7 linked regions of the Homo sapiens genome follow. The protein of the gene in region 1 purifies or fractionates together with the protein of each later gene. This does not show direct contact. Each region holds a gene or a part of one and is shown in the gene's direction. Other genes may lie near its edges.

Region 1 (3,500 bases):
TGTTCCCATCCCATTCAGTTTATTGAATCGAATTCAAGGCTGAATGGCGAGAGAAGCGCAGCGCCCGGCTGGCGCCCCTAGGTGGCAGTAGCGAGGCGGTGCGGCCGACCCGAGCTGTGGGTCAGGGGAAGACCAACGGAAGCCAGCCTGTGGGAGGGAAGTGAGGCTCGCTCCCTCCTCTGAACGACTCTCCCTGCTCCGCTGCTGTGTCCTGGGCCCCCGCTAGGCTCTGGAGAGTGTGCATGATGTGTGTAGGTCATCTCAGCCCACTCTGATGAGTGCTGTGAGAATTATGCCCTGGCTGATGTGGAAGCCCAGAAAAGGGACCTGGGTGGGCACAGGAGAGCCCAGAATGCTTCCTGGAGGAGAGGAGGCAGTAGCGGTGGGGAGGAGCTAACCAGGCAAAGACAATAGGGTGGGGCTTTTTAGGATACAGCCAAGCCCGGAGGTGGGAACATCGCAGTGTTCAGAGAACATCGTGTGTTCAAAGAACCACGTGGGTTCTTTAGGGACAAGAAGGCTGAGATGGGTAGTGGTGGCAGGAGTGCTCAGGTGTCCACTGGGCAGAGGGCTTGGCTGTTACCCTGCAGGTAGGCCAGGGGTGGCTACTGAGCAGTTTTAGTTCACTGCTCACCCTGGTGGAGAGGCTGGGGGGAGACAAGGAGAAACCAGTCACAGGCTGTTGCAGTACTGAGGTGGCCCCGTAATGGCTGAACCGCTTGAGGGTCAGGACTGGGACTGCTTCTATATTTTGTATGCCTGATGCTTTGCTCTGTGCCTGGCACGTGGTTGATATTTTGTCTGTGCCAGGGAAAGGAAAGATTGGCAGACTACTCAGAAGCGACTGGATCCAGGTACCTGTCAAACAGACATCTGTGGCTGGGTGTAGTGGCTCACACCTGTAACCCCAACAGCTTGGGAGGCCAAGGTGGAAGATTGCTCAAGGCCAGGAGTTCAAGACCAGCCTGGGCAACATAGCGAGATCCCATCTCTAAAAAAAAAAAAAATTTTTTTTAAGAGTGAGACGTTTATGTCAGGGGAAGGAATCACAGGAGAGGGAACAATCCTGAACAGCTCGATGGCCAGACTCATGTCACCATGAACAGAAACAGGCAGACTCAAGGAAGGGGAGTGACTAGGAGGAAGAAGATGAAGCTGGGTTTAGAGACACTGAGTTTGCAATCCCACTTAGGAGTCGGTCTAGCAGGAGGTGACAGGAATCTGAATAGGGATGGTGGCAGAGAGGTGGCAGGACGGTGAGAGATCTCACATGTCAAACTGGCAGGACATGGTGCTTGATTAGGTCCAAGGGCTAGAGAGAGGTGGCTTGGGGGACAGGTGGGGCTATGCCACCAAATGAAGTAATTCAGGGGGCGGAGGCGGTTTGAAGAGAGGGCAAGGACAGGAGGAGAGGAGATGAAGGTGTTTGTAGCTGCAGACAGGGAGGTTGGGGAGACATACATTCGCCTTGATTTTGTTCATGAAGTGGGACTAGAGACAGGTACTCACTGTACCAGGCACTGTGGAGCAAGGGGTGACATCCCCAGTGGAGGAAGCTGAAGCTCTGGGAAGGGGAGCGACTTCTGCACAGTAGTTCAGCTGATGAGCAGGAGACTTAGTGCCCAGCTCGGGCCTGCCAGGCTCCAGAGCTCAGGGTTTTTTCCTGCCATGCCCTGTTGCTTTGCACTTCTGTGTGAGATCCCTGCAGTGGCCTTTGGCCTTGACCAGCCAGAAAGAAGCCAGAGCCCTTAGCAGGGCTGTGGGGTGCCTGGACTGGGCCACAGGCCAGCCACACCTGACCTGCTCCTGCCCCGGGCTTCTCAGCCTGGCTGAAAGGGAATTGTCACTTAGCTGGAGCTGCTCCAGCCAGGCATCCTGCCCTTCTGTGGGCCATGGGCAGGGGCTTGGAAGAAGCTGGTGCCATGTCCACCTGAGACCTTGCCTTGCATGGCATTTATAACTGGGTCAGGTGGTGCTTTGGGTTTTTTCTGGCAGCAGAGCATTTCCTGAATGACCTAAGCCTTTTTTACCTGGAAGACTCAGAATGTTGCATCTGGAAAGGACCTTAAACATTATTGGGTCCAAGCCCTGTCAGATGATGTGTGAAGTGTCAAGATTGAGCCTGAAGATAGATTTGACTGTTCTAGTTTTGCTCTGGCTCAAGTGGTTTAGAATACCTGCTCCGTCATGGTGCAATGAAAGTGATTCTCATGCTTGCCTGGTGGAAAGCAGCCTCACTGCTTCACTCTTTTTCTGTCACACATAAAGACACACACATCTCTCTCCCCTGGATATGCGCTAGATGATCGACGGATGTGAACAACATCACTGATGTCACATAGACAACCAGGATTGTTTAAAATAGTGCATTGGAGTCAAAAACCTTCAGAGATCATCCAAACAAGACTTCTCCCAGAGGCCAGGCACCGACGGTGACTCTCACCTCTAAGCCCAGTGCTTGGGAGGCTGAGGTAGGAGGATCACTTGACGTCAGGAGTTAAAGACCAGCCTGAACAACATGGCGAGACACCCCCCCGCCCCCGCCTCTACAAAACATAAAAAAGCGGCCAAGCGTGGTGGCTCATGCTTGTAATCCCAGCACTTTGGGAGGCCAAGGCGGGTGGATCACCTGAGGTCAGGAGTGCCAGAGCAGCCTGGCCAACGTAGTGAAACCCTGTCTCTACTAAAAATACAAAAATTAGCCGGGCGTGGTGGCAGGTGCCTGTAATCTCAGCTACTCGGGAGGCTGAAGCCGGAGAATCACTTGAACCTAGGAGGCGGAGGTTGCAGTGAGCCAAGATCGCACCACTGCACTCCAGCCTGGGTGACAAAGCAAGACCCCCCTCTCTGCAAAACATAAAAAAGCTTAGACAGAACTACATAGAGGACTTAGTAGGACTACGTAGTGACACGCACCTGCAGTCCTAGGTACTTGGGAGGCTTAGGTGGGAGGATCACCTGAGCCTAGGAGGCCGGGGCTGCAGTGAGCCGTGATCATGCCTCTGCACTCCAGCCTGGTCTGAGAGCCAGCAGCCTCCTGTACTGCTGTGTGACACACCCTGGCTTTGCCTGGGGACTCTTAGATGGCAATGGTATAACCTGGGCCCTCAAGGTTCTCACCACTGACATTGGTCATTGAGTGTAAGGCAAATAATGATAGGAGTGGTTGGGACAGTAACAAAGGTTTACAGCAATGGCATGGAGGCACTGAGAACTAGAGTAAGTAACCTGTTGTCCTGGGGGAAGGTGGCCTTTTATTTTTTATTTTTTTGAGACAGTCTCACTCTGTTGCCCAGGCTGGAGTGCAGTGGCGTGATTTTGACTCACTGCAACCTCTGCCTCCCGCGTTCAAGTGAGTCTGCTGTCTCAGCCTCCTGAGTAGCTGGTACTACAGGCATGCACCATCACGCCCAGCTAATTTTTGTATTTTCAGTATAGACAGGGTTTCACTATGTTGGCCATGCTGGTCTCAAACTCCTGACCTCAGGTGATCCGCCTAC
Region 2 (3,500 bases), on another chromosome or scaffold:
AAATCAAGCAGCTGTGACATGAAGTGAATGAAGTCCACTTGAAGCTGTGGAAGATGGTTCATCCTTTTCCCCAGTTGAGGATCCAGATTTATAACTTCTAGAAAGCCATTTCCAGAAGGTTCTATGTGGCACACCCCTAGGAAAGGCACTAAATGCATGCAAAGGATTTATAAACTTAGGAAAGTAGATGGGTGGAGTCCAGAAAACTGGTTCTGGGTTAATATCTCTACATCTGTCTTGATGACTCATTTCTCCTAACTCCCATTTAGTGCAGGGTAAATGGTTTGAGATGAGAGTTTTTCAATGAAAGGGAAATTTTCTTTCAGTTTACAGATGTATTAGAAGTCCTGACTTTCAAGTGTAATTTGCTTTGGAGGAGGAAAAAATAGTGAAAGAATCATTTTATCTCAATTCTAAGCTACTATCCATTTACTAATAGCTTTTTGGCAAGGAAATAACTGTCACCTTAGGTAAAAACAGTCTTGTTAGATGCAGCCCAATTTCAGGAACATTAAAATGTAAAAAAGTACGTCTCAGAATTGAGGGAGCATGGGAACAAAGACGAGACTTTCTCAGTATTTCTCATTTTTCCTGCAAGGAAAGCCTCGCCTTAGGCATCTCAAGTAAAGTGGCTAAGGTGTAAACTCTCTGGGCAAGATTTCTGTCCTGACTGGGACAGTGTTCTTGGAGGAGACATGAGAGAGTCAGAAACTTCTGCCAGTCATAGAGAGTGATGATTTTGCAGAAGGCCACTGGGTTATTGGCCTACATTTACCACCGACTTCCTTTATGGCCTTTTCTCCACTTCTCCGGACTCAGCTCCTCTGTCTGTACCACGTCGGGGGTTGGGACCAATCATTGTATCTCAAACTTAAGAATCAACTCACATTTGTACTATTACTCATGTAACATTTTTTTAAGTCACCTTTTCTTAAAAGCAAGACTTAGCCTCCTCCAAAGAAATAATATGCATGAAATTTCAACTCTGATATGCTAGGTTTTTCCCTAACATTAATCACATAATTATCAATGTAACAAACATGCACCCACATACCACCTGAAATCATTTTGTGAACCACCAGGAGCATGTGTATCAAACTTTGGGACCCTGAGTAACTGATATGACAGAAGATTTATGCCCTTAGGGGCATCAAAGATGGTGGTTCTTCACATATTAGAGTCAGCAGGGCTGCCCATAACACACACAGGAATAATTTTTGTCATGGTTTAAGGAGTTCATAGGCCCCTTTGCAGTTTATCTGCGAACTCCAAATAAAAGCCCCTACACTAGTCCAACACCCTTAGCATATAGATGTACAAACTGGGATCCAGAGTAGGATGAGTTTGCCAGAGAAGAAAGAGCAGAGGGCAGCCATCCTCTCCTCCATCCCCTGCAAAGGATGCATTAGAGCAAACACCCAAGACTCCTGGACGGGAACAGGAGGGGAAAGCCCTAGAGATTAGGCCTCAGGGAGCAATAACCACCACGATGTTTCACAAATTAACTGTTCTTTACCAGGTACTGAACTAGGTATTTTACATGTGTGATCTTTCAGCCCCAGTACTGGCAATATTTCTTAGTTAGTGGCACATAGAAGTCAGTCTGTTTTCCTGCTGACACTAAAAACTACTTGAAGGCTGATTTGCTACCTTGCAACAGTTGGTTCGATTCTAAGGGCCCTATACTACTTTACCCCACAAGGCCTGCTGCTTGGTAAGAGCCATCAGATTACAACTGGAGGGTGTCAGTTGAATGAAGGAAAATGGAAGCCACGCCATCCCTGGCTTTTACAAAAACCATCCTTGCGCAACATTCAGTTCCTGACGTTAAAAACAAGTAATGCAAAAAGCTGAACTTTGGTAGACATTCGTACTCTTCTGTCAGGAGGAGGAAGATTAGTTAGAAAAAACAAAAAAGGAAGATACTAGCCAGCATCAAGAAGTGGGATATATAAAGGCAGATGGGCAGTGGGAATCAAGTTGCTTCTTAACTCCTTCAAGTTTGGCTCCTGCCTTTACTCTTCCATTGAAAAAAAAGCACCTTTAAACCTCTCATTGATCTTGTAATTAATTCAACCAAATCAACTTCTATTAGGCAACCAGCATATATAAGATGGAACAATTGCAAGGTGGAATAAAGATGAAGCTAAAATTCTGCTAGCTCAGTGGCCCAATGAAATAAGTCAGCTATCTCCACTAAACTTCCTTTGAATATTCTAGGGTCCATTATAATAAAAGGTACACACTCAAATGCCCAATTTCTAAGGACTTGAAAAGCCATAATTTCCCTCCCTTCAAGCCTACAGAGCAACTGCCTAAAGCTTCCCTCCCCAGACAACCCCAGGCCTCATTTCTTTTTCAGTCCCTTTGCTAGCTGCCTGCAGGGCTCAAGAAAGCCCTGGTAGGCCTCATAATGAGGATTTAGGGATGACACTATAGTCCACAGCCTGAATGGTGGAACCCTTACTAATTTTCCCTCTTCCGTGATGAATGTGTGGATGAAGCCGGTGTGTTTTTAATAATGCCACCCCACTTCCAAAACAAATCCCCTGACACAGTCTTTGGACATACCACCCTGAATGCACCCGATCTCATCTGATCTTGGAAGTGAAATGGAGTCAGGCCTGGTTAGTCTTTGGATGGGGGAAGTCTAGACACACCACTGAGAAACATTCACACTGCAACCTGATTCACTGTGCATCCAACATGCCTTCATCCACCTCTTCCCCCTGAACTTCTAAGTCAACTCTCAGGGACTGCTTTCCAAGGGAGCAACCAACCTGGTCAGTGGAAAAAGGATGAGACTGGGAGACAGGAAACGTGGGTCCTGCTCCTGGTAACCATGGAACTTAAGCTACCCACTCAGTCCCTATGTCAGTGTCATCACCTGTAAAATGGCCAGAAAGACATCTATCCTAGCTCAGAGAATTGTTATTGGGAGAACAAGAAATCCATTTACTTACAACTATTTTGATAGGTTTAAAGCACCATAAACTAATAATAGCAACAACAGTGATGGGTAATATACTATTGCTTTCCATGCCTCATCTCATTATCTCCTCTCCCAGACCCCATGGTGGCATTAGTATTTCCATTTTGCAAATGAGAAAATAGACTCAAGTTGTCAACCTAGCCAAGGGCACAAAGCCCGAGAGAGATGGAACCAGGACTCCAACTCAAGGTATCTGACTCTAAAGCCAGAGCTGTTAAAATACAGCTCTAACATACAATAGTTGCTAACATTTATTGAGCACTTATTATAAGCCAGGCTTTGTTCTACAAATTTCACATGTATTGACTTATTTACCCCTAAAACTCCAGATGCAGATACTATTGTTGTTCTCATTTTATAGATACAGAAACAGATGAATGACAACCAAATTTACACAGTTCACAAGTGACAAAGCCAGGCAGTTTTAGTTAAAGTTCTTATCCACTATCCCCATCATACATTATGTGTGTGTGTGTGTGTGTGTGTGTGTGTGTGTGTGTGTGTGTAT
Region 3 (3,500 bases), on another chromosome or scaffold:
GGACTACAGTTGTATGCCACCATCCCTGGCTGTTAAAAATTTTTTTTGGTGCAGTGGGTTTTTCCCTATGTTGCCAAGGCTGGTCTCAAACTCCTGGGCTCAACCAGTCCTTTCACCTTGGCCTCCCAGAATGCTGGGATTATAGGTGGGAGCCACTGTGCCTGACCTTTCTTGTACATTTGTGAATTTGAAAGAGTTATATGCCAGCTTCTAAGGCATTTCTTAAAGATGAATTTTTAAATCCTGGTTTCTTTTAAGTCTTTTTGGAATAGCTATACATTAGCCAAAGTAAATTTTTTGATACAAGTTTACCTCTAAAGGAAGAGGACATTCGAATAGGGTTTTATAGCTATTTCAGTATAGGGTTTTATGATTTTCTCTTAAGGAATTTCAGAGTATGTGTCATTGTTTCAAGATTTTCTATTTACTACTTTAAAAATGGAAATAATAGGTCTTTGGTACCTTCTTGAAGGTCATATGCCACAAAGAATGCAAAAATACATGAAAGTCCTTAGTATTTGTTGTTATGGTCATTTTTTAGAGCTAATTTTATTTTTAATCATTAGCGGTTGCTTCGTTTGGAGTTCTGTTTTTATAACAATGATAGATAATATCTGCATCATATTATTGATGTAAAAAAAATCTACCTTTGAAATGAATTAGGGATGTACCATACTTTTGAATGTTTGTCATCAAACAACATTTAGCATAAACTGCATCTAGTGGCCATTGCTCTGTAATATGTAAAGACTTGTCGGTACTTTGTCCTGCTAATTAATTTGAGGATTTAGATTGTAAGCTCTGTGAGGGCAGAAAGTAATATTTTTCTCATTTTTGTAATCTTTTCTATTATTGTCTGCATAGCATAGTACTTTACACTGTATCAGAAATTGAGTATTTTGGTTTAGGCTTCTATGGTAATAGAGGTTAAGAAAGGAAATTTGGTAGACCTTTAACATTTGCTGGATTTTGACATTTTTGATTTTTGACTGAAGTCTTCAAGTTCTGTTACATGACACAAGAATGTGAAATGATTTTTTCTTTTTTTGGGAAAAGCTGGTTTTTTGTGTGCTTTATATAATTTAAAGAAAAGACTTGTTATGAAATAGTTTCAGTCATTTTCTGAATTATTGTTGAAATTAGTACAGGGTAGATTCACATGGTCAGAAAGTGTCACTTAAAGTTTTCACCTTTAGCTTATGTGGTTGATATTTATCTAATTAGAAATTAAGACCCAGAAATTTAAAAAATTCAAGCACATATTCCATTAGCTGCCAGAGCAATGTCACCACACATCCTGTAGCTTCTAGAAAACCATGTAACATATACTCATGAGGGAATGAGAGCAAGGGGAAAAGGCAAAATGTGAAACATAAGGATATATAATGTCTTAGTATAATAATGAAATAATTTTGACTTCATGTATTCCCTGAAGAGTCCACACTGTGATAACTGCTGCTTTATATTGTTATGATTACTCACAGACAGAAGCTATGTGGAAGAGAAGCAAAAAAGTAAAGGAGTAGAATAGACAGCGGAGCATGTTTTAAAATGTAAAATATAGAGTACCTGTAAAATGTAGTAGTATTTTCTTCTTATAGTAGTATTTACAGCCCTGAGAGAGAAGATTGAATTAATTACAACTTGAACACTTGACCATTTCTACTGCTGTATTTTTTGTGAAAAACGAAAATTCAAATGTTTGTTTTATTATTTCCCACTATTTTTTTTTTTTTTTGTATATGGCTTAATATGTGCCACACTTAGGTAGTATGGTAAAGATGTAAAGGTACCTAGGCTTTGGATCTAAACAGACCTATACTCAAATCTCAGTTCTTGTTAGGGCTTGTACCTTGGGCAAGTTACTAATCTTTTTTCTCACCATTAAAATGAGAATTGTGTTTAGAAGTTTGTTATGAGGACTAACTATTTATGTAAAATTCTAGATACAATGCATTTGTCCAACCCCAAGTTCACAAAAGTCTGGTCATCCCCTTTTTGTAATTATAATTTGACTCTCATGTGCTTTTATTCAAATGAGAGAGAAACATAACTTTTCATCATAGCAACAAACTTAAAATAATGTCTTTTACTTATTATTGCTTGGAATCATCAATTATTTATGCTTTTTTCCTAGTCAAAGTAAACAAGTATGGAGATACTTGGGATGAGTGAAAAATTACATCATTGGACATGAAGGAGTTTCAACATCCAGCTTCATCTAGGTGGTCATGATTACCTGCATGCTTTGAGCTCAGCAGCAGTCTTCATAAACACATTTAAAACAAGATCCTGGGTTTTTGTGGTTTGACTTCTATGGTGTTTTAAAAAAACACAGATTTTTAGTGTTAATATTGTGTAAATGTACTCACCTTAGGGATTCATTTGAATGATGGTATTATACCATGATTGTATACAGTTTGTGAAATTGTTGCAAGGGCAAAGATAACTCTTAAAAAACCGTCGAGATTACAATGCTCTAGAATCAGCATATAAGAAAATAAATGATATCTGCATGTTGAATTGGGGTGGATGGGGGGAGCAAGCATAATTTTTAAGTGTGAAGCTTTGCATCAAGAAATTATTAAAAAGCTTTTTTTCTCCAGTATTTTCTGTATTATCTTAATGTTTATGGCAAATAAAATGTAAAGGAACATGCAACAGCCCTCATCTTCCTTGATTTTATGGTTTTATTGTTTGTAATTTATTGATTTATTTTTAAGCTAGTTATAATCATGTAGGTATAGGAAATAAAGTCATCTATAATATTTCTATAATATGGCTATAATATGGCTATAAATCTATAATATGGCTGGAGGCAGTGGGCAGTGGTTCATGCCTGTAATCCCAGCACTTTGGGAGGCCGAAGTGGGAGGATTGCATGAGTCCAGGAGTTTGAGACCAGCCTGGGCAACAAAGCGAGACCCTGTCTTTACAAAAAAATAAAAATTAGCTGGCGATGGTGTCGTGTGCCTGTAGTCCTAGTTACTTAAGAGGCTGAGTTGGGAGGATCAGTTGAACCCAGTGGTTCTGGGTTGCAGTGAGCTGTGGTCACACCACTGAACTCCAGCCTGTGCGACTGAGTGAGACCCTGTGTCTAAAAAAATAAAAATATAATGAATGTGATTTATGTAGATAAATTGATAATATAGTAAATAGGTAAATGCCTTAAAAAGCATTTTTAAAGAATTTGTAAATTCTAAAACAATAAAAATTTGGTATACATCACAGAGACTGATATTATGTTAAAAAGAAAAATTGGTGTACAGTGACCCTTCGTATCTGTGGGTTCCGTATCTGCAGATTCAATCAACTGCAGATTGAAAATATTTGAGGGAGAGAAATGGATGGTTGTCTGTACTGAACTCTTGTTATTCCCAAACAATACATTGTAATAACTATTTACATAGCATTTACATTAGGCATTACAAGTAATCTATAAATGACTTAAAGTATATAGGAGGATGTGCATTGGTTATATGTAAATACTACACCATTTT
Region 4 (4,147 bases), 8.3 Mb from region 1:
GTCTCAAAAAAACTCAAATGAATAAACCTCTATCCTTCCCTCCTTCACTAAAGTGGAGGTCCCCTAGGGCAGGGATCTTGTCTATCTCTTGGTTACTGTGTCCCCAGTGCCTACCCAGGGCTGGCAGACAGTTGTAACAGGAGTGACAGTCCCTGGCCAGCAGGGATATGGTGTGGGGGACAGAGGTGGAGCATTGAAGGGACCCATTGGGCAGCATTGTCCTCTGATGCCCCCGATGCTGGAGCTGTATTGGGGGAATGACTGTCATCACCGTCCTCTGAGTTACTTAATTCATTTATGGAAGTCAGTAAAGGAACCCAGCCTGCCTGTGCCTGCCGCAACTCCAACTTCTCCCAGCCACCTCTGCCTCAGTTTCCCTGCACTTGACGGGCTTATTGAGGTTGGGGAGGAGGGGGTGGGTGTCTCAAATGTCAAAGATTTAATGTGTCTTGATGTTACCACACAAAAGTTTTGTTTTGTTTGTTTTTTTGAGACAGTCTCCTCTGTCACCCAGGCTGGAGTGTAGTGGTGTGATTGTATCTCACTGCAGCCTCGACCTCCTGGGCTCAAGCGATCCTCCCACCTCAGCCTCCCACTACACCCAGCTAATTTTTTTTATTTTTTAAGAGATGGGGGCCACTGTGTTGCCCAGGCTGGTCTTGAACTCCTGGCCTCGAGTGATCCTCCTGTCTCAGCCTCCCAAAGCGGTGGGATTACAGATGTGACCCACTGCACCAGGTCTACACAAGGTGTTTTTTTTTACAGGGTGATGTGCACACGGTGGGTCCCTCTGGGTGGTCCCACAACAGATGAGGGGCCCAGCCTCACCCATCCATGAATCCTGGAGACTCCAGACTTCCCATCCATCCAGGGTTCTGCAGCCCTCTCTGAGGCTGGAGCCAATCTCCCCTTCCGTCAAGGGATCCGGGGAGACCGCCAAGCCCGGTGCTCCCCTGAGAGTCTCTGAGAGGCCCCGACACCGCCCCCGCTCCAGGTCCCCGGGATGCTCGCGCAGGCGGGAGCCCGGGGCGCCCGGGGGATCCCTGAGCGTCACGCCGCTGTTGTGGAGCGCGTGTTGACAACGTCGCCGGGGAGACGGGCGGGGGCGGGGCCCGGGAGAGGGGGAGGCGCGGCCCTGGCGGCGCGCGAGGGGCCGGGCTGTCAGCGCAAGGCCCAGGCCGCCGCAGTGGCCACGGCCGCTGCCGCCCGCCGGCTTATATACCGCGGCTAAATTTAGGCTGCGCCCGGAGCTCGTCCCCATCCGGGACGCGTTTCCGCCGCCGCCGCTTTGGCCCGGCCCCCGCGCGCGCCGCGCCTATAAGGCTTGGGCGGGCCCGGCCGCGGCCCACAGAGCCGTCCCCGCCCGCCCGCGCCCCGACCAGCCCGGCCTCGGGCAGCCACTCACCGGTGTCCCCGTCCGCGTCCTTTCTCCCCGGGTCCCGGCCATGGCGCTGAGTGAACCCATCCTGCCGTCCTTCTCCACTTTCGCCAGCCCGTGCCGCGAGCGCGGCCTGCAGGAGGTGAGGGCGGCGGGGACGGCGGGGCGGCCGGGACCGTGGGCGGCGGGCTCGGGGTAGTAGAACGTGGGCTGCGGGGTGACAGGACGCGAAGGCGGGGACTGCAGACTCAGGAGAGGAGGATGCGGGCCACGGGGATCGCGGACTTAGGGTGGTAAAAGGCAAGCAGCGCCCCCCGAGCCCCGCCGCCCGCTCACGCCCATTGCCCTGTCGCCCGCAGCGCTGGCCGCGCGCCGAACCCGAGTCCGGCGGCACCGACGACGACCTCAACAGCGTGCTGGACTTCATCCTGTCCATGGGGCTGGATGGCCTGGGCGCCGAGGCCGCCCCGGAGCCGCCGCCGCCGCCCCCGCCGCCTGCGTTCTATTACCCCGAACCCGGCGCGCCCCCGCCCTACAGCGCCCCCGCGGGTGGCCTGGTGTCTGAGCTGCTGCGACCCGAGCTGGATGCGCCGCTGGGGCCCGCACTGCACGGCCGCTTTCTGCTGGCGCCGCCCGGCCGCCTGGTCAAGGCCGAGCCCCCTGAAGCGGACGGCGGCGGCGGCTACGGCTGCGCCCCCGGGCTGACCCGTGGACCGCGCGGCCTCAAGCGCGAGGGCGCCCCGGGCCCGGCGGCTTCGTGCATGCGAGGTCCCGGGGGCCGCCCCCCGCCGCCGCCCGACACACCGCCGCTCAGCCCCGACGGCCCCGCGCGCCTGCCCGCGCCCGGTCCGCGCGCCTCCTTCCCGCCGCCTTTCGGTGGCCCTGGTTTCGGCGCGCCCGGGCCCGGCCTGCATTACGCGCCGCCTGCGCCCCCAGCCTTCGGTCTCTTCGACGACGCGGCCGCCGCCGCGGCAGCCCTGGGCCTGGCGCCCCCCGCCGCCCGCGGTCTCCTCACGCCGCCTGCGTCCCCGCTGGAGCTGCTGGAGGCCAAGCCAAAGCGCGGCCGCCGCTCTTGGCCCCGCAAACGCACCGCCACTCACACCTGCAGCTACGCGGGCTGCGGCAAGACCTACACCAAGAGTTCGCATCTGAAGGCGCATCTGCGCACGCACACAGGTGGGCGGCACGCACGAGCCAGGAGCGCAGGCGGGGGGACGCGGGAGGAGAGGTCGGATTCCCAGCGCGCGCCAGAAAATGAATTTAGGACCTCCCTTGGGGCGTGGCTCAGGGGGATCTGGCAGGTGGTGCACGCTTAGGACTCCCCAGGAGGCGTGGCTCGGGAGGTTGGTTGGGGGGGCACACAGGAACACTCCCTAAGGAAGTGTGATCCGAGAGGTTGGGGTGGGGGCTTGCACGCTTAGGACGAGGGGGGCCTCCGGAGGTTGGGAAGAGCACTTAGAAAACCTCCTGGAGGCGTGGCTAGGGAGACAGTCTCAGAAAGTTGGGGAGGGGGAGCAGGTTTAGGAGCCGCTGGGCACTTGGCTCAGAATCCCCGGGGCTGAGGCTCAGGTAGTTGGGGAGTAGGTGCGCGTTTAGGAACCCCGGGGAGATGCTGCGTCTCAGGAAGTTGGGGAGGGCGCTCAGGCTTGGGACTCCTCTGGGGACAAGGCTCAGGACCTTGGGGAGGGAGTGTTCGCTGGGAAACCTTGAGAGATTCCGTGTCTTAGAATGCTGGAGAGAGGGTGCATGCTTAGGACCCGTCGGGGAGCGTGGCTGACAACAGTGGGGAGTGGACCTTGCGCTCCTCCGACCCCCTGGGGGTGAGGATCCGGATTGTGGGGGGAGTTGGGGATGTAGGGCAAGGATCCCTCAGGGGCGCAACACTACCGCGGGGAGCGCGTCAAGGCCCTGGTTAGGGATAGGTTGCGCTCGCCGGGGTAGCCATACGTGCCCTGTCCTGGGAGGGGAACTGACGCTTACTCTCGCCCCCTCCCTGCAGGTGAGAAGCCCTACCACTGCAACTGGGACGGCTGCGGCTGGAAGTTTGCGCGCTCAGACGAGCTCACGCGCCACTACCGAAAGCACACGGGCCACCGGCCATTCCAGTGCCATCTGTGCGATCGTGCCTTCTCGCGCTCCGATCACCTGGCGCTGCACATGAAACGGCACATGTAGCCGGGACGCCCCCGCCCACCTGCGCGCGGCCGTGGCGGGTCCCACGCGCCGGGCGCGGCCCCCTCCCAAACTGTGACTGGTATTTATTGGACCCAGAGAACCGGGCCGGGCACAGCGTGGCTACAGAGGGTCTCCCTCGATGACGACGACGACGACGCCACCACCCCAGCCCCCGTCTGTGACTGAAGGCCCGGTGGGAAAAGACCACGATCCTCCTTGACGAGTTTTGTTTTTCAAAATGGTGCAATAATTTAAGTGGCATCTTCTCTCCCACCGGGTCTACACTAGAGGATCGAGGCTTGTGATGCCTTGTGAGAAATAAGGGCCTTAATTTGTACTGTCTGCGGCATTTTTTATAATATTGTATATAGTGACTGACAAATATTGTATTACTGTACATAGAGAGACAGGTGGGCATTTTTGGGCTACCTGGTTCGTTTTTATAAGATTTTGCTGGGTTGGTTTTTTTTTTAATTAAAAAGTTTTGCATCTTTTAAAAAAAATCACAGCACTGGTCTGGTTGCTTGGAACTGGGGCCTTGGGGCACTTGGGAGGAGGGGGGAGCGGAGAGTTTGATGGAGGGCAGCCCCACTA
Region 5 (2,907 bases), on another chromosome or scaffold:
TAGATGATTAAATGAAGACAAGCTGGATTGATTTGAACTGAACTTCAGGTGAAGTGGGACCTTAGCGAGGTGGAAGGCTGGAGATAGAAGCACCAAGTCCAGATAGAGACATGGAGATGACAGAGGATTTATTTTAGAATTATCTTAGGTTTCATGTTTCATAAGTTGGACAGACTCTGAAAGTTCGTAGAAGACTTTTCTATATATTTTTGAATATGGAAGACAAGTTATCAAAAATGAGAAGAAATAAACCCACTTCTGTTTTTTCAGATGTAGAAAATGTATAGAGATGGTGAGAGACTGTCCATTTGTGAGGTAAAGAAGGTGTAAAGAGAGCACATGTGTGTTTATTTTTTATTAGACAAGCTTTTGTTTTGTAGTAATGATGGGAATTCATATTTTACAGAAGAAAAATCAAAGTACTAAACATTTAGAACCCTTGTTTCTGATACTTATCTCCCATGCTGCCCTCCCTTTATTCAGTATGTGCATTTCTTACCCACTAACTGTGTATGAACCAGATAGCCATCAGCTGCCTGGATTATGTGACAGACACAGTGGCAGTCATTTGTACTGTATTTCTTTTCACCCTGGGAATCAAGATCTAAATCTACCAGAAATAGTTATTACTAAAAAACCAAGGATGCGATTTGTGACACTGTAGCCTCATCTGCTGGGTAACTGCATGCTTCTAGGGCCACTTCATTCTCTGTCATATTTTGTGTATCATAATTTCAGTGGCTACTTTATTTCTACAGTTCCTCTTGCCCATCCTCCTCAAGGAGAAAGCCTTTTTGGCAGGCTCAGGTTAGTGGCTGGCAACTAATTAGGTGACTGGCAACTAAAATTTCTTATCTGTTGCAAGAGTATCTCCTATTTATAATGGTTATCCAGTTGTTTATGTACAAATAAACGTTTTTATAAGATACTTTAAGAAAAGAAGTTATTTTTCTTTAAAAAGGAGTTCTGTTCTTTTTAAAATGGAATCTGACAGGATCTTTTGTTTTTAAGAAGTTTCATTCTTTTTTTAAGCAAAAACTACAGCTTGGAGTTTTTTAAATACATAGTGAATGTTTTGACCAAATACATGTAATTTTACTTAAACTATTTTAACAATGACTTTTCTAAGTGGAAGACCCTAATAGAAATTGACATGTCCTAGTCAGTGATATGGACTGAGAACTTGATAACAAATCCCACTGCTGGCTACTAAGAAGCTTTATCGGGTTTAATAGGGAAAAGCCTTGTACTGATACATATTGTTCATGTTTACATGTAAATGTGTACTTGTATACATAGTGTGTACTTACATGCATTACATGCATATTATGTGTGTCAAGTAAGTCACGTGTGTCCTGACTTTAATGACTCAGTGCTCATGTCTGAGGTGTTCCTTTGAGCTCTGAGGTGATGTGCATAAAAGTTTTAGTCTGCTCCCAGGTGAACCAGGTTAAATATGAGGGCTCTGGTTTAAAGCAAGGACCAGACTGCATCCTGAGGGCTTCCGTGTGCCCCTGGGATTGTGAGATAATCACATCCACATACTAACAGTCAAGTAGAGAGAAGGAAGTTGGATGGAATGAGGGGAGGACTCAGGGCTGACCCCTCTTCCAGACACCACAGAGTTTCTCTCTGTATACAAAGCCTCTGTACACATTACAAGATTCCACTTGGCCCTGTTGGAGGAATGGCTGCCGTGGCTTTCTTAATGAGCCTTGTGGATATAGCTCTGATATTACACTGTGGGTGTTGAACATGTCAGTCAGACTGGGTAGGGGTTCCTTACAGACAAAGGCCTCATCTAATTAACAGCTGCTTCACTCCACTCATTGCTTCTTTCTACTGGATCTTAACAAATGTTTATTGGGTTAAATTATAGATGATAGATGATGAAATGATACATAGTATACATAATCTTGGGATATTATTAAAGCAGAATTTTGTCTTTTCAGCAAACCATTCCTCAAGCAACTGCAGCAAAATATCCCCGGACCATTCATCCTGAAAGTAGTACCTCAGCTTCCAGATCACTTGGAACCAGATCAGCTCACACCCAGTCTCTCACAAGTGTTCATTCCATAAAAGTGGTTGACTAAAGTGAATATGTCCATAGTGGGGTCTTTTAATCCCTCTGGTCTTACCAAGGGTTAGAAGTCTTTTGGTTTTAACTTTTCCATATTGTTAGAACATCATGGAGACATCATGTTCATCTGTTCAAAATTACAAGAGGCTTTTTCAAGCTCTACCATGCTTTGTAACTATATGTAGAAATTATTTTAATGTTATTTTTTATTTAAGCAATTAAGTAAAACTTTTTTAAATTAAAAAAGAAACTGGACTTTATTTCTTTAATATGTTTAGCCTGTTGCTGATTACAGCATCAAAATATATAAATTTATTTTCACTATTTATAAAACACTAAATCATTTCCAATATTACACAGCTGTAATTCACTCAAAGTGTTGAGAGGGAACCTTACTAAAAACAAAGTATTAGAACTAGTGGAAACTAGGATATTTTTATTTTTAATTTAAAAAAGACCAAGTGTAATAATGATTTTTTTTTTTTTTTTTTTTGAGACAGAGTCTCGCTCTGTCACCCAGGTTGGAATGCAATGGTGTGACCTCGGCTCACTGCCTCCTCCTCCCATGTTCAAGCAATTCTCCTGCCCCAGCCTCCCGAGTATCTGGGATTACAAGTGCCAGCCACCATGCCCGGCTAATTTTTGTATCTTTTTTTAGTAGAGACAAGGTTTCATCATGTTGGCCAGGCTGGTCCCGAATTCCTGACCTCAAGTGATCCGCCCGCCTGAGCCTCCCAAAGTGCTGGGATTACAGGCATGAGCCACCACGCGCGGCCCCGTTTTTTGTGGCTTTAACATGTTAGTCTTCATTTTTCCAGGACTCT
Region 6 (3,500 bases), on another chromosome or scaffold:
GGAGAAAAAGAATTAGTCACTGCACCCAAGGTGTTTCTGCACCTTAGTCTCTGCTTCTCTCGGCCTTCATTACCAGCCCTATCCTCAGTTTTCTGTTTCCGCTACCTCTTCCTATTTGCAGGAGCTCACCTGGCTGTCTTTTTCTCTGGTCCTCCTTTGCAGAGGTGGTGCGGAGCTCCTGTTTGACGGTATTAAGAAACATCGAGTCACTTTGCCTGGACAGGAGGAACCCTGTGAGTATTGGCTTTCTGAACCCCTCTCTTGGGGCCATTGAACAGGAGTTGGTCCATGGGGAACACTCAGCCCCGTTCAGGCCTGTGTTCTGCATCCGTGTGCTAAGCTGCCTCTCTAGCAGGCAGAGGAATAAAAACAAGAGTCTACACGGCTGGGCCGGGTGGCTCATGCCTGTAATCCCAGCACTTTGGGAGGCCAAGGTGGGTGGATCACAAGGTCAGGAGTTCGAGACCAGCCTGGCCAACATGGTGAAATCCTGTCTCTATTAAAAATACAAAAATTAGCTGGGCATGGTGGCGCGTGCATGTAATCCCAGCTACTCAGGAGGCTGAGGCAGGAGAATTGCTTGAACCGGAACCTGGGAGGCGGAGGTTGCAGTGAGCCGAGATCATGCCACTGTACTCTAGCCTGGGCGACAAAGCAAGACTCCATCTCAAAAAAAAAAAAAAAAAAAAAAAAAAAAAACTTGTTAATCTTTCTTGAACAAATATACACTGAGCACCTTCTGTGTAGCAGACCATGTGCTGATCACTGTGGAGACAGACATGAACAAAAGCCAGTCCCAGGCCAGGTGTGGAGGCTCACACCTGTGATCCCAGCACTTTGGGGGGCCGAGGCGGACGGATCACTTGAGACCAGGAGTTCTAGACCAACATGGCGAAATCCCATCTCTACTAGAAATACAAAAAATTAGTCACGCATAGCGGTGCGCGCTTGTAATCCCAGCTACTCAGGAGGCTGGGGCAGGAGAATTGCTTAAACCTGGGAGGCAGAGGTTTCAGTGAGCCGAGATCGTGCCACTGCACTCCAGCCTGGGTGGCAGAGCAAGATTCTGTCACCAAAAAAAAAAAAAAAAAAAAGAATGAACTTGCAGATCTTTGGCTGGGTAACTGTCAGGATAGCCTAGGGGCTGGGGACCGGATATGGCAGGTGTTCACTGTAACCTTAGCAGTGGGTTCTAGCAAGGGCTCAGGGATGGGATTCCAGTCTCCACCTATGACTGAGATACTTCTGGGGAGAAGAGGGCATCAGTTATATTAAGAGACAGGAAATGAGGTTCCTGGAGGTGGGCGGTAGAAAATGGTCAAGTCAGGCCGGACGTGGTGGCTCACACCTTTAATCCCAGCACTTTGGGAGGCTGAGGCGGGCAGATCACGAGGTCAGGAGTTCCTGACCATCCTGATCAACATGATGAAACCCCGTCTCTACTAACAGTACAAAAATTAGCTGGCGCAGTGGCAGGCATCTGTAATCCCAGCTACTTGGGAGGCTGAAGCAGGAGAATTGCTTGAACCTGAGAGGCAGAGGTTGCAGTGAACCAAGATCGCACCATTGCACTCCAGCCTGGGCAACAAGAGCAAGACTCCGTCTCAAAAAAAGAAAAAGAAATAAGAAAATAGGCCAGGTGTTGGCTGGGCACGGTGGCTCACGCCTGTAATCCCAGCACTTTGGGAGGCCAAGGCGGGTGGATCACGAGGTCAGGAGTTCAACACTAGCCTGGCCAAGATGGTGAAACCCCGTCTCTACTAAAAATACAAAAAAATTAGCTGGGCGTGGTGGCATGCGCCTGTAATCCCGGCTACTCTGGAGGCTGAGGCACGAGAATTGCTTAAACCTAAAGGGGCGGAGGTTGCAGTGAGCCGAATCATGCCACTGCACTCCAGCCTGGGCAACAGAGCGAGACTCCATCTCAAAAAAAAATAAAATAAAATAAAATAAAATAAACCAGGCACAGTGGCTCATGCCTGTAATCCTAACACTTTGGGAGTCTGAGGTAGGAGGATTACCTGAGCCCAGGAGTTTGAGACCAGCCTGGGTAACATGGCAAAACCTGGTCTTTACAAAAAAATAAAAAATTAGCCAGGCATAGTGGCATGCACCTGTGTTCCTAGCTGTTTTAGAAGCTGATGCTGAAGGATTGCTTGAGCCCAGGAGATCGAGACTACAGTGAGCTATGATCACACACTGTTCTTCAGCCTGGGTGCCAGAGTGAGACCCTGTCTCAAAAGAAAAAAAAAATACATAAGCAGAATATGTATGGGGAGAAAAAAAGAAAATGGTCAAGTGAGATTTGGCAGGATTCTTCTGGAACTGGACACACATCTGCCAGGAATCAATTATTATTGCTCAGATTCACTGGCTGCCGCACCTCTCTGTCCCTCCCTCAGGTTGGAGAGCAGTGGCACAGGGTGGGGTCTGTCTGCCACACGTGGAGGCTGGGGGGGGGACACTTACTGAGGAGCAGGTCACTGCCCACATTGAGCTGGGAGGGGATATGTGGCTGGGGTTTCATGTCAGGATTGTGTGTCCCTGGTCGAGGAAGACATGGGGTGCTAAAGGTGACTGTTTCTTAGTTTGACAGATGGCCATGCAGCCTTGGGAGGGCACATGGTGCTCTCAGAAGAAGCTTCTCAAAGATTCAGTCTCAAAGACCTTGCCTGGAAGTTTATTAAAATATCACAAGTTATTATTTATTTCCTGTGGAGTTTGTCTGACATGAAAACCCACAAATTTTCTTTTTTTTTTCTTTTCTTTTTTTTTTTTTTGAGATGGAGTCTCGCTCTGTCTCCCAGGCTGAAGTGCCGTGGTGCAGTCTCAGCGCGCTGCAACCCCCACCTCCTGGGTTCAAGCAATTCTCCCACCTCAGCCTCCCAAGTAGCTGGGATTACAGGCAGGCACCACAACACCTGGCTAATTTGTGTATGTTTTTTTTTGTTTGTTTTGTTGTTGTTTTTGAGACGTAGTCTCGCTCTGTTGCCCAGGCTGGAATGCAGTGGCGCGATCTTGGCTGACTGCAAGCTCCGCCTCCCGGGTTCACGCCATTCTCCTGCCTCAGCCTCCCAAGTAGCTGGGACTACAGGTGCCTGCCACCACGCCCGGCTAATTTTTTGTATTTTTAGAAGAGACGGGGTTTCACCATGTTAGCCAGGATGGTCTCGATCTCCTGACCTGGTGATCCGCCCGCCTCGGCCTCCCAAAGTGCTGGGATTACAGGTGTGAGCCACCGCGCCCAGCCCCAAAGTACTTTATTCTTTCATGTAGTTGGCAAATCTATTTTGAATGCCCTCTTTGTGCCATCACTGTACTAAGTTACTGGATATTCATTAGTGAGCAAAATAGATGTGGTCCTTGCCCTAGTAGAGTTAGCAGTGTAATGGGAGTGGAGCCAGGGAATAAACAAGTAAACAAATGAATGTATAACTGCGTCATTACAACTTTTAGTAACTGGCATGAGGAGAACCAAAGGGTACTTGAATAGGACTAAT
Region 7 (3,500 bases), on another chromosome or scaffold:
CTTGAATTCTGGGTGTGAGATCTCTTCCCCACCATATTCCTGTGTGTCACTGGCTCCCATTCGTTTCCCCCTTCAGTGATGCTCCTGCGGGCTGTCCCAGGTGGGGCTGGAGATGCCTCAGTGCTGCCCAGCCTTCCACGGGAAGGACAGGAGAAGGTGCTGGACCGCCTGGACTTTGTGCTGACCAGCCTTGTGGCGCTGCGGCGGGAGGTGGAGGAGCTGAGAAGCAGCCTGCGAGGGCTTGCGGGGGAGATTGTTGGGGAGGTCCGGTGAGTAATGCGGCTTCTTCTCCTGCTTTATCCCTCCCCTGCAGCTTTTCAGCTGGGGTGTGTTCTGGCCTTCGCTGTCTGTCTCTAAAGAATAAACCAGTTCTATAGCTTCTAGCCTAATCTGGGTTGAAGCTGTACATTTGGTACCTCGCCTTGCACATGCTCCTTGCTGCTTCTGGACTCTCATGGTTGATCTGTTGTAGCAGCTGAAGCGCTCTGTTTGCCTAACCTAGTCTGTCTGTGCGGGCTGGGCCCAGGAAGCTGCCCTGCTTGCCCTCCTGAGGGTTAGAGACTTAGGATTTTCTCTGCTTTTAGCCCTTTAATGAGGAGCAGTAGTAAGAGGCACCCCATGGTGAGCAGAAAGACAAGCTGGATGGGACCTAATGGTACCCTTCGGGATGGGGCCTGCTTTCCAGATGCCACATGGAAGAGAACCAGAGAGTGGCTCGGCGGCGAAGGTTTCCGTTTGTCCGGGAGAGGAGTGACTCCACTGGCTCCAGCTCTGTCTACTTCACGGCCTCCTCGGGAGCCACGTTCACAGATGCTGAGAGTGAAGGGGGGTGAGTTGTCTCTCTTGGAGGCAGTTATGGCTACAGCCAGGTTGTGTTTTGTAAAAGTATTATCAATGGAAAATTCAAACCAAGCTGCTGCAAATGATTTTTGGAACAGGTAAGAGTATAATAAATACAGAAGAGTTGAAACAAAAAACCCATCCAATTTATGTCATTCAGACAAATGTAGATGTTAATAGCAGTTATTGCTTGCATCTGTTATCTTAGTTTATTACATAGTTATGATATATTATTTGGGCATTTTTCTGTGTTATCACAAGGACTTGATAAGCATTGTTTGACTTTGTTCCTTTCCTTGGGTGGCTGAGCTGGTATACGGAGATGTCTAAGCACGAAGCATGCTCCTCCCTGGGAGTCACCCTCTTCCCACAGGGGAGCCTTGCCTGTGATCCTTTGCATTTTTACAGGTGGGAGGTGGATGTCCTGAGTTCTCAGTGGCCCAGGAGGGCTGACGATAGGCCTTTCTGTGAGGCGGGGCAGCTGGCAGGAGTCTGGTGGACAGCCTCCTCCAAGTCTGGTCATGCTAAGGGTGTTTTGAGTTTAAACCACTAGCACCACTTTGAAACTCTGGTCCCAAGGATAGAGTGTGATGTCAGTAGCAGCATCTGACCCATCTGACCTTATCTGCTGCTAGCTCCAGTTATTCAGGTAGCCTGTGTGAGGCCTAGAGGCCGATTTCTCCTTGTCCAGCCTTTATTCTTCTTAAGGGAAAGACTGGTGTAGAGAACAGCCAAGTTTTATGCTGGATCAGAGGAATTAGCTATAAGCAGGTACATGGAAACTAGAAGTTAAAATCAGTCCAGGTGTGGTGGTGGCTCATGGGTAATCCCAGCACTTTGGGAGGCCGAGACAGGAGGATTGCTTGAGTTCAGGAGCTTGAGACCATCCTGGACAAGGCAGCAAGACCACGTCTCTACATAAAATAACTACCTGGGGGAGGCCAAGGTGGGCGGATCACCTGAGTTCAGGAGTTTGAGACCAGTCTGGCCAACATGTCGAAACCCTGTCTCTACTAAAAATACAAAAATTAGCCAGGTGTGGTGGTGCATGCCTGTAATCCCAGCTAATCGGGAGGCTGAGGCAGGAGAATTGCTGGAACCCAGGAGGCAGAGGTTTCAGTGAGCCGAGATTGCGCCACTGCACTCCAGCCTGTGAGACAGAGTGAGACTCCATCTCAAAGAAAAAAAAAAAAAAAAAAAAAAACGAGCTGGGCATGGTGGCATGGGTCGGTAGTCCCAGCTACTTGGGAGGCCGGGAGTTTGAGGATGCAGTGAGCCATAATTGTGCCACTGCACTCCAGCCTGGGTGACAGAGTGAGACCCTGCCTCAGAAAAATAAAATACAATGTAAATACTAGGTGATAGGAATTTTTCAGCTCCATTATAATCGTATGCACCCACTGATATGCGCAGTCCGTGGTTGACTGAAATGTCATTATCACCAACGCTGGATTTGATGAGTGCTCCGGGGTCTCCAGAAACCTGTGGAGTGGTGGTGAAGAGCTCTCTGCTCTTCCATGGGGGACTGCTGTTGCCTGGGTTGTCAGATCCCTGTTATCTGCATTCTCAAGGGCAAACAGAGGTGGCCCTTTTCTATTCAATTTACCTAAATGGCTCTGGGCCAAGAGATGCTTCCAGAAGTTGTGTTAAAGAGGGGGCAAAAATGAAATTAATATTTGATACATCTGAATTGAAGAGAGAGACCGAGGAAGTAGTTGATAGTGGGCACTGAGATGTAAAGAACATCTCTGCAACCCAAGGAAGCAGGCCACTTGGGTGGGGAATTGATGTTTGAACTCTGTAAGGAGGTTGAACAGAAGGAGAGGTCACAGCTCTGCCCAAAATCAAAGAAAGCTTGAGGCCCTTCACAACTGTTTTTGTTTTTGTTTTGTTTTGTTTTGAGACAGGGTCTCACTCTGTTGCCCAGGCTGGAGTTCCATGGTGCCATCACAGCACAGCAGCCTCAACCTCTTGGGCTCAAGTGGTGCTCCTGCCTCAGCCTTCTGAATAGCTGGGACTACAGGCATGTGCCACCATGCCCAGCCAATTCTATTTATTTTTTTTGTACAGATGGGGTCTCACTGTGTTGCCCAGCCTGTTCTTGAACTCTTGGCCTCAAGCAGTTCTCCCACATCAGCCTCCAAGTGCTGAGATTACAGGTATGAACCACCGCACCTGGTCCTCTTTGTGATGATTTAAAGAAGTTGTACTAGGCCAGGCGCGGTGGCTCAGGCCTGTAATCCCAGCACGTTGGGAGGCCAAGGCAGGTAGATCACCTGAGATCAGGAGTTCAAGACCAGATGGCCAACATGGTGAAACCTCGTCTCTACTAAAAATACAAAAATTAGCCAGGCATGTTGGCAGGCACCGGTAATCCCAGCTACCTAGGAGGCGGAGGCAGAAGAATCACTTGAACCCAGGAGGTGGAGGCTGTAGTGTGCCAAGATGGCACCACTGCACTCCAGCCTCGGTGATAGAGCAGTACTCTGTCTCAAAAAAAAAAAAAATTACTGAGGCTGGGGTGTGGAGGCTCATGCCTATAATCCCAGCACTTTGGGAGGCTGAGGTGGGCAGATCACTTGAGGTCAGGAGTTCGAGACCAGCCCGGCCAACATGGTGAAACCCTGTCTCTACTAAAAATAGAAAAATTAGCTGGGCGT

The links.
Region 2: the proteins of ELAVL1 (region 1) and PPP2R2B purify together in Homo sapiens (co-immunoprecipitation; one large-scale study listed by IntAct). This does not show direct contact.
Region 3: the proteins of ELAVL1 (region 1) and OCIAD1 fractionate together in Homo sapiens (co-fractionation; one large-scale study listed by BioGRID). This does not show direct contact.
Region 4: the proteins of ELAVL1 (region 1) and KLF2 purify together in Homo sapiens (affinity purification with western blotting, with the first as the bait; one study listed by BioGRID). This does not show direct contact.
Region 5: the proteins of ELAVL1 (region 1) and POC5 purify together in Homo sapiens (co-immunoprecipitation; one large-scale study listed by IntAct). This does not show direct contact.
Region 6: the proteins of ELAVL1 (region 1) and URM1 purify together in Homo sapiens (co-immunoprecipitation; one study listed by IntAct). This does not show direct contact.
Region 7: the proteins of ELAVL1 (region 1) and RMDN3 fractionate together in Homo sapiens (co-fractionation; one large-scale study listed by BioGRID). This does not show direct contact.

The regions. Positions count from the first base shown.
Region 1 is NC_000019.10:7,999,142-8,002,641, reverse strand, and holds part of ELAVL1 (ELAV-like protein 1), read left to right. Parts: intron 1-437; exon of another isoform or gene 438-525; coding exon of another isoform or gene 526-590; intron 591-3,500. UniProt on the Homo sapiens protein: RNA-binding protein that binds to the 3'-UTR region of mRNAs and increases their stability.
Region 2 is NC_000005.10:146,585,258-146,588,757, reverse strand, and holds part of PPP2R2B (serine/threonine-protein phosphatase 2A 55 kDa regulatory subunit B beta isoform), read left to right. Parts: 3' UTR 1-3,500. UniProt on the Homo sapiens protein: The B regulatory subunit might modulate substrate selectivity and catalytic activity, and might also direct the localization of the catalytic enzyme to a particular subcellular compartment.
Region 3 is NC_000004.12:48,858,588-48,862,087, forward strand, and holds the end of OCIAD1 (OCIA domain-containing protein 1), read left to right. Parts: intron 1-1,569; exon of another isoform or gene 1,570-1,616; intron 1,617-2,137; coding exon 2,138-2,175; 3' UTR 2,176-3,228; downstream 3,229-3,500. UniProt on the Homo sapiens protein: Maintains stem cell potency. Increases STAT3 phosphorylation and controls ERK phosphorylation. May act as a scaffold, increasing STAT3 recruitment onto endosomes. Involved in integrin-mediated cancer cell adhesion and colony formation in ovarian cancer.
Region 4 is NC_000019.10:16,323,479-16,327,625, forward strand, and holds the start of KLF2 (Krueppel-like factor 2), read left to right. Parts: upstream 1-1,347; 5' UTR 1,348-1,445; coding exon 1,446-1,520; intron 1,521-1,737; coding exon 1,738-2,554; intron 2,555-3,377; coding exon 3,378-3,553; 3' UTR 3,554-4,147.
Region 5 is NC_000005.10:75,673,624-75,676,530, reverse strand, and holds the end of POC5 (centrosomal protein POC5), read left to right. Parts: intron 1-1,952; coding exon 1,953-2,096; 3' UTR 2,097-2,407; downstream 2,408-2,907. UniProt on the Homo sapiens protein: Essential for the assembly of the distal half of centrioles, required for centriole elongation. Acts as a negative regulator of centriole elongation.
Region 6 is NC_000009.12:128,377,874-128,381,373, forward strand, and holds part of URM1 (ubiquitin-related modifier 1), read left to right. Parts: intron 1-121; exon of another isoform or gene 122-162; coding exon 163-233; intron 234-3,500. UniProt on the Homo sapiens protein: Acts as a sulfur carrier required for 2-thiolation of mcm(5)S(2)U at tRNA wobble positions of cytosolic tRNA(Lys), tRNA(Glu) and tRNA(Gln). Serves as sulfur donor in tRNA 2-thiolation reaction by being thiocarboxylated (-COSH) at its C-terminus by MOCS3.
Region 7 is NC_000015.10:40,748,755-40,752,254, reverse strand, and holds part of RMDN3 (regulator of microtubule dynamics protein 3), read left to right. Parts: intron 1-76; coding exon 77-269; intron 270-584; exon of another isoform or gene 585-685; coding exon 686-829; intron 830-3,500.